2 separate regions of the Homo sapiens genome follow, and region 2 is linked to region 1. The links come from fine-mapping of genetic effects on gene expression. A gene starts in region 1. The other region holds a variant in brackets. All regions are shown on one strand. Distances are from middle to middle.

Region 1 (2,913 bases):
CCACTGTAAAACTATTAACTCATTTAGTCTTCCTAAAAACCCTATAAAGTAGGTACTATTTATTATATTCCCATTTTATAGATGAGAAAACTGAGTCATAGAGAAATAAAGAAACTTGCTCAAGGTCACACAGCCAATAAATAGTTTGATCTGAGAGACAAAGAAAACTGAAAAGACAATAAATTTATCTTTATGTAACTCAGAATGTTACTGTATGTCCTATCCTCATAATATCTAAAATTGTCCCTTCTGTTATTGGAAGTACAGGATCCACACGTTAGGAAATTCTGGCCTACTACAGGATAATCTAATATTTTAGAATTTTAATAACTAAGCTCTTCTATCTTTTTAGCCTCATCACCTGCCACAGTAACCTACCAACGTCTGGCACCCAGCCATTGCCAATGCTTCCTAAACCCAAACCTGTGGGTTTCCAGGGAGACTGGGGCATTTTCCATCTGAGTAGACAGTAAAAATAAGCAAAGGATTTACCATCATGGAGCTTCTGGGACTATACCGACCACGGGTCACTCTGCGCTGCGATCTGTAACCTAGTCAGTTCTGAGATGCACGGTGGCTCAAACGCACTTAGCATGGTGACTTGCCACTCGCACTGGCCCAGGTCTGGCACCGCGCTACAATTTCTTCTGTAGCCCGTTCTGAGATTCTGTCACTCTCCCTGAACTGCAACTCTCTCTCTCCCCGCCACACCCTAAAGCCCCACATCTTCTCAACCCTCTCCCACCGCTTCTTGGAGAAGCGTCCCCTCCCTCAGTCTTACCTTTGGCTTAATTTAAACTCTCCCGAAAATTTATAGCGGATGACGGCCGATCCCGCCTCCCAGACCATGTGGGCGCGGCTCACCATTGCTCCGGAGCACCTGCGGCGGGGGCGGGGTGGGACCAGCCAGGCGGGCCCAGGGGGCGGGCCCGGCCCAAGGTGGTGGGGGACGGGCCCGGGCGCCAGGGGCGGGACGAGGCTCTGGGGACTGGCACAGAAAAGGGAAGTGAACCTGGCGAGGGCGGGGCGGGATGGTGCAGTTGGTGGGGAAGGGTGGGGCGAACCTAGGAAGGCGGTCCCATAGGGCGGGCGCAGACTGGGCGCCCGGGACGGGTCAAGGAGGGCGGAATGAACCTGGAGAGGGCGGGGCGGCTGGGGGAGGGGCGGGAAGGCCCTGGGGACTGGCCTAGGGGCGGGCCCGGGGGGGTGGGGGGGCGGTGCGGAATGGAGCCGGAGGGGGCGGGGCGGCCCTGGCGCGGCTAGGGTGGGGTGGGGCGTCCCAGGCTCTGGCTAAGGAGCGCGCGGCGGGCGGGCCGGCCGCAGGGCCTGGGCACGACCATGGTGGGACGTCGCCCGCGGCTTCGGGGACCGCTGCGGCAGCAGAGGCGGCTGGCCAGGAACGCGGGCCGAGGCTGGACCCTTTGGGCAGCTAGCCCGTGATCTCTGCCGTCACCGATCGCGATTCCTACCCCCTCGCCTTCCCCCGGCGCCGACGGCCACACCGCCGGACGATGCGCGCCCGCGGCCGCCCGGGAGGCTGAGCCCAGCTTCCCGCTCCGCCTTCCCCGCGCAGCTGCCCCCATGGCTTTGCGGGGCGCCGCGGGAGCGACCGACACCCCGGTGTCCTCGGCCGGGGGAGCCCCCGGCGGCTCAGCGTCCTCGTCGTCCACCTCCTCGGGCGGCTCGGCCTCGGCGGGCGCGGGGCTGTGGGCCGCGCTCTATGACTACGAGGCTCGCGGCGAGGACGAGCTGAGCCTGCGGCGCGGCCAGCTGGTGGAGGTGCTGTCGCAGGACGCCGCCGTGTCGGGCGACGAGGGCTGGTGGGCAGGCCAGGTGCAGCGGCGCCTCGGCATCTTCCCCGCCAACTACGTGGCTCCCTGCCGCCCGGCCGCCAGCCCCGCGCCGCCGCCCTCGCGGCCCAGCTCCCCGGTACACGTCGCCTTCGAGCGGCTGGAGCTGAAGGAGCTCATCGGCGCTGGGGGCTTCGGGCAGGTGTACCGCGCCACCTGGCAGGGCCAGGAGGTGGCCGTGAAGGCGGCGCGCCAGGACCCGGAGCAGGACGCGGCGGCGGCTGCCGAGAGCGTGCGGCGCGAGGCTCGGCTCTTCGCCATGCTGCGGCACCCCAACATCATCGAGCTGCGCGGCGTGTGCCTGCAGCAGCCGCACCTCTGCCTGGTGCTGGAGTTCGCCCGCGGCGGAGCGCTCAACCGAGCGCTGGCCGCTGCCAACGCCGCCCCGGACCCGCGCGCGCCCGGCCCCCGCCGCGCGCGCCGCATCCCTCCGCACGTGCTGGTCAACTGGGCCGTGCAGATAGCGCGGGGCATGCTCTACCTGCATGAGGAGGCCTTCGTGCCCATCCTGCACCGGGACCTCAAGTCCAGCAACAGTAAGTGGGGCCAGAGGGAGGTGGGGGAAGACTACCTCCGTGCCAGCCCAGGCGGGCTCCACAGGACATAGTACCAGATGGAAAGAGGTGGGAGTCAGCCTTAGGGCGCCAGCAGCAACTCATGCCCAGGCCTTCAGGGCTCGGAAGTCCAGCTAGTCCTTGGTTACTTGCTTTGGGGCTGGTGACACGCTTAACCTTGACTTGCCTTTGGGTGCTTTTTAAAAAAGTTCAGACCAGACTTGCTTGTAGAGGAAACATTTGTAAAATACCTGGATCTCCTAGAAACCTCAGGGGGCAGTCTGGCCTTTCAATACCAGAGGTGATTCATCTGGGTAGGACTTTGCAAACCGAGGCCTTCTGCAGATTATATGGAACCCATGACCGTCTTCACCCGGTGGCCTTCATCAAAGTCCCCGAATGCACTCGGGGACGTCAACTTTACAAGTGCTGTATTGAGGTTGCTGTTTGCCTATTCAAAATATGACTTCATGTCTCTTACCTTTTCCAAAGACTGTTTTCATTCAAAT
Region 2 (2,913 bases), 58 kb after region 1:
GCCCTAAGGAAAACGATCTTGCATTCTGGATTCTTGCAGCAAAGTCTCAGATACTTAATACGTTTTCTTGTTTTATCATCTGTTCTATGATTCGGCTTCACTTTGTGTGGTTATTGAATTATGTAACAGAGATTTGGTTTTCCCAAAATGTTATCACATTTGAAACTATGATTGCTTTGTGTTCAGTCCTTTTGGAACACGTAGCTTCCAGCTTAAGGGTAGAGAAATATATACCTAAAATCATCAATACATGAAAGAAAAAGGATGGAAACTATGTCCTCAGTTTTACTTCTACCAAAACATCCCTGTATGTGTGTGCATGTATGTTGGCGTGTGTGTGTGTGCATGCATATTAGTAAATGTGTGTTTGCATGTGTGTGTTGGGGAGTGTATGTGATCTGGGTGTTTGTTTATCTCTGTTATTATTCCCCTTTAGCTTTATTTTAGTCAACTCTACATTATGATGAATTTCAAAATGAAGCTGTATTAAAATAATTGTAATATAACAATTCAATCTCACATGTTACTGCAGATAGTTAACTTTTGCTGCAATCTATTGTACATTTGCAATTTTCTGTGTTAGTAAACTTAGCAGAATCTGGTTATTTATTTTTGTGTAGGCTTAATGTTCACTGAAAGATAAGTCAATTACTGTTAGTAAAAAATTAAGGTACTCTCACTGCAGAGATTTAAGGCCTGGGCCTAATGTGCTGTATTATGAAGCCTTGTGACTGAAAAATATGTTTACATATGTTGTCTATTTTTTTAATAAACTTTTATAGCTGGTCTATTTGCTCAGTAGCTTTGATCCTCTCTTGATTATTGTGACTATAGTTTGCAATGGTTTATTTTGTATTCAATAAGAAAAATTGTGTTAATAAAGATTATTGTTTAATAAGCCAGGTATTAACCTGCTAAATATATTAAACTGAAAATCACTAAATGAGTCATTCAATTAAATACATCAAAAAAGGTAGAATGAAATGTTTTATTTCAAATTTTTTTGGTTTACATATGCATTGAAAAGTTATATTTCATGGTGAGCGTTTTGCAAGTCCAGCTTTTCAGAAGACACACTTTTGCAGAGTGAAATGAGTATGAGAAAAAAATCTCAGTGATTAAGGAGACATGTTGATTTTATTGTTTAATTTTATGTTTAAATCAGAGGAATTTCAAACACCACTTAACATGTAGAAATTCTTACTAAGTGATAAAAGCTTGAGTGAATGAGGAAAGCAGATCGCAGGACTTCATGGAGATCATAGCATTACCCCACCACATGGGAGGGAGCAAAACGTAATGTGCATTGAATATCTGTTAAGTATGGGGAACCCTCCTAGGTGCCTATAGAAGACAACTCCTGTAATTCTCTTTAATAAAAATTGTGAGAGAAAGCCAGGCATGGTGGCTCACGCCTGTAATCCCAGCACTTTGGGAACCTGAGGTGGGCGGATCAAGAGGTCAAGAGATCGAGACCATCCTGGCCAACATGGTGAAACCCCTTCTTTACTAAAAATACAAAAAATTAGTCTGGCATGATGGTGCCCGCCTGTAATCCAAGTTACTCAGGAGGCTGAGGCAGAAGAATTGCTTGAATCTGGGAGGCAGAGGTTGCAGTCAGCCGGGATCGCACCATTGCACTCCAGCCTGGTGACAGAGTGAGACTTAATCTCAAAAAAAAAAAAAAAAAAAA[AC/A]AAACTGTGAGATAAGTAATACTACTCCTATCGCATTAGATATGAAACAGACACAGAAAGGTTTGGTAAATTTCCAAAGACCCAGTCTGAGTCAAGTGATCACCATCTACCTGTTCACACCTGTGGTTAATAGTTGTAAGCATGGTGTAGAAGATGAGGACATCTTGCAAATGAGCTTTGTAAATGTTATCTAAAGCTAAGGTAGTTTCTCTCTCATCAAAAAGTCAAAAGTCTAAAAATGTATGAGTACCATTGAAGTTAAATAAGATATAGAGATAAATATTGAAATTTGAAACATTTTATTTAGGAAGCAAGAATTGCAATTCAGGACATACACAGAGACCAGGTGATCTTCAGTATGTCCAAAGAACAAAGAGACAGGAGTTTTATTAAAGAATTGTTACATATTGTTTTGAAAGAAAGCTCATTGGCACTAGAGAAGCTTTTGGACTCTGGCAAGCTCTGGTTGGTGAGTCATGGCAGGAATTAAAACAAGTCTTAGAGTCACAAATTGTTGCTTCAGCAGCTACCAGGTAAAACTGGCCCTGGGGTGACAGCAGGCCATTTCAGCAGCTGGGCTTGGAGAAAATACATTCGTGGAGTAGGTGCTATGTCCCCCACGTATGTTTTCCTCTCTGGCCCCTCAGTTCTGATTTAACTGAGTATGTATGACAAGAATTGCCCAATTTGTATTATTAACTTTCACAGTACTTATTTAAAAATAAAACACTATTAGCTAATAACACTTAATACAATGGAAAATGCAATAGAAAGGAGTAAAATATGCATATCTGATAGATCAACTCAGAGAAATGAGGTATTCTGTTCAATAGGTTCATAAATGCCATGGTCTGAATATGTCCCTCAAAATTCCTATGTTGAAATCGTAACCATCAAAGTTTTGGAATTAAGAGGTGGGAGGTAATTAGATCATGAATTCTCATGAATGGGGTTAATGCTGTTTTAAAAGAGGCCTGAAGGAAGCTGTTATCCCTTTACACCATGTGAGGACACAGTGAGAAACTGCTATATATACACTAGGAAACAGGCCCACAGCAGACACAGAGTCTGCCAGCACCATCATCTTGGACTTCCCAGCCTCCAGAACTGTGAGCAACAAATGTGTGTTGTTTAGAAGCCACCTACTTTATGTTATTTTGTTATAACAGCCCAGATGGACTAAGACAATAAATATGGTGAAATTATGTAAGAACTGCAA

Which allele goes with the higher level. Positions count from the first base shown, and alleles are read on the strand shown. Sizes are in standard deviations (SD) of each study's normalised expression.
As copies of A replace AC in region 2, the expression in prefrontal cortex of the gene that starts at base 1,277 in region 1 goes up (moderate effect, 0.62 SD a copy in BrainSeq).

The links. PIP is the estimated chance that this variant, and not a neighbour inherited with it, causes the effect.
Region 2: its variant is fine-mapped to the expression of MAP3K21 in prefrontal cortex (BrainSeq, PIP 0.95).

The regions. Positions count from the first base shown.
Region 1 is chr1:233,326,448-233,329,360 of GRCh38, forward strand. MAP3K21 (mitogen-activated protein kinase kinase kinase 21) reads left to right here and starts at 1,277. Exons shown (of 10, transcript NM_032435.3): 1 at 1,277-2,386. The coding sequence starts at 1,582. It also overlaps a transcript of PCNX2 not described here. RefSeq lists silencers at 791-1,090, 1,281-1,580, 1,380-1,531, 1,721-1,920.
Region 2 is chr1:233,384,348-233,387,260 of GRCh38, forward strand. It overlaps MAP3K21 (mitogen-activated protein kinase kinase kinase 21), which reads left to right. Exons shown (of 10, transcript NM_032435.3): 10 at 1-801. Among named protein-coding and RNA genes, the nearest start is that of MAP3K21, 58 kb to the left of the region's middle. The variant AC/A (reference allele first, on the strand shown) is at 1,694.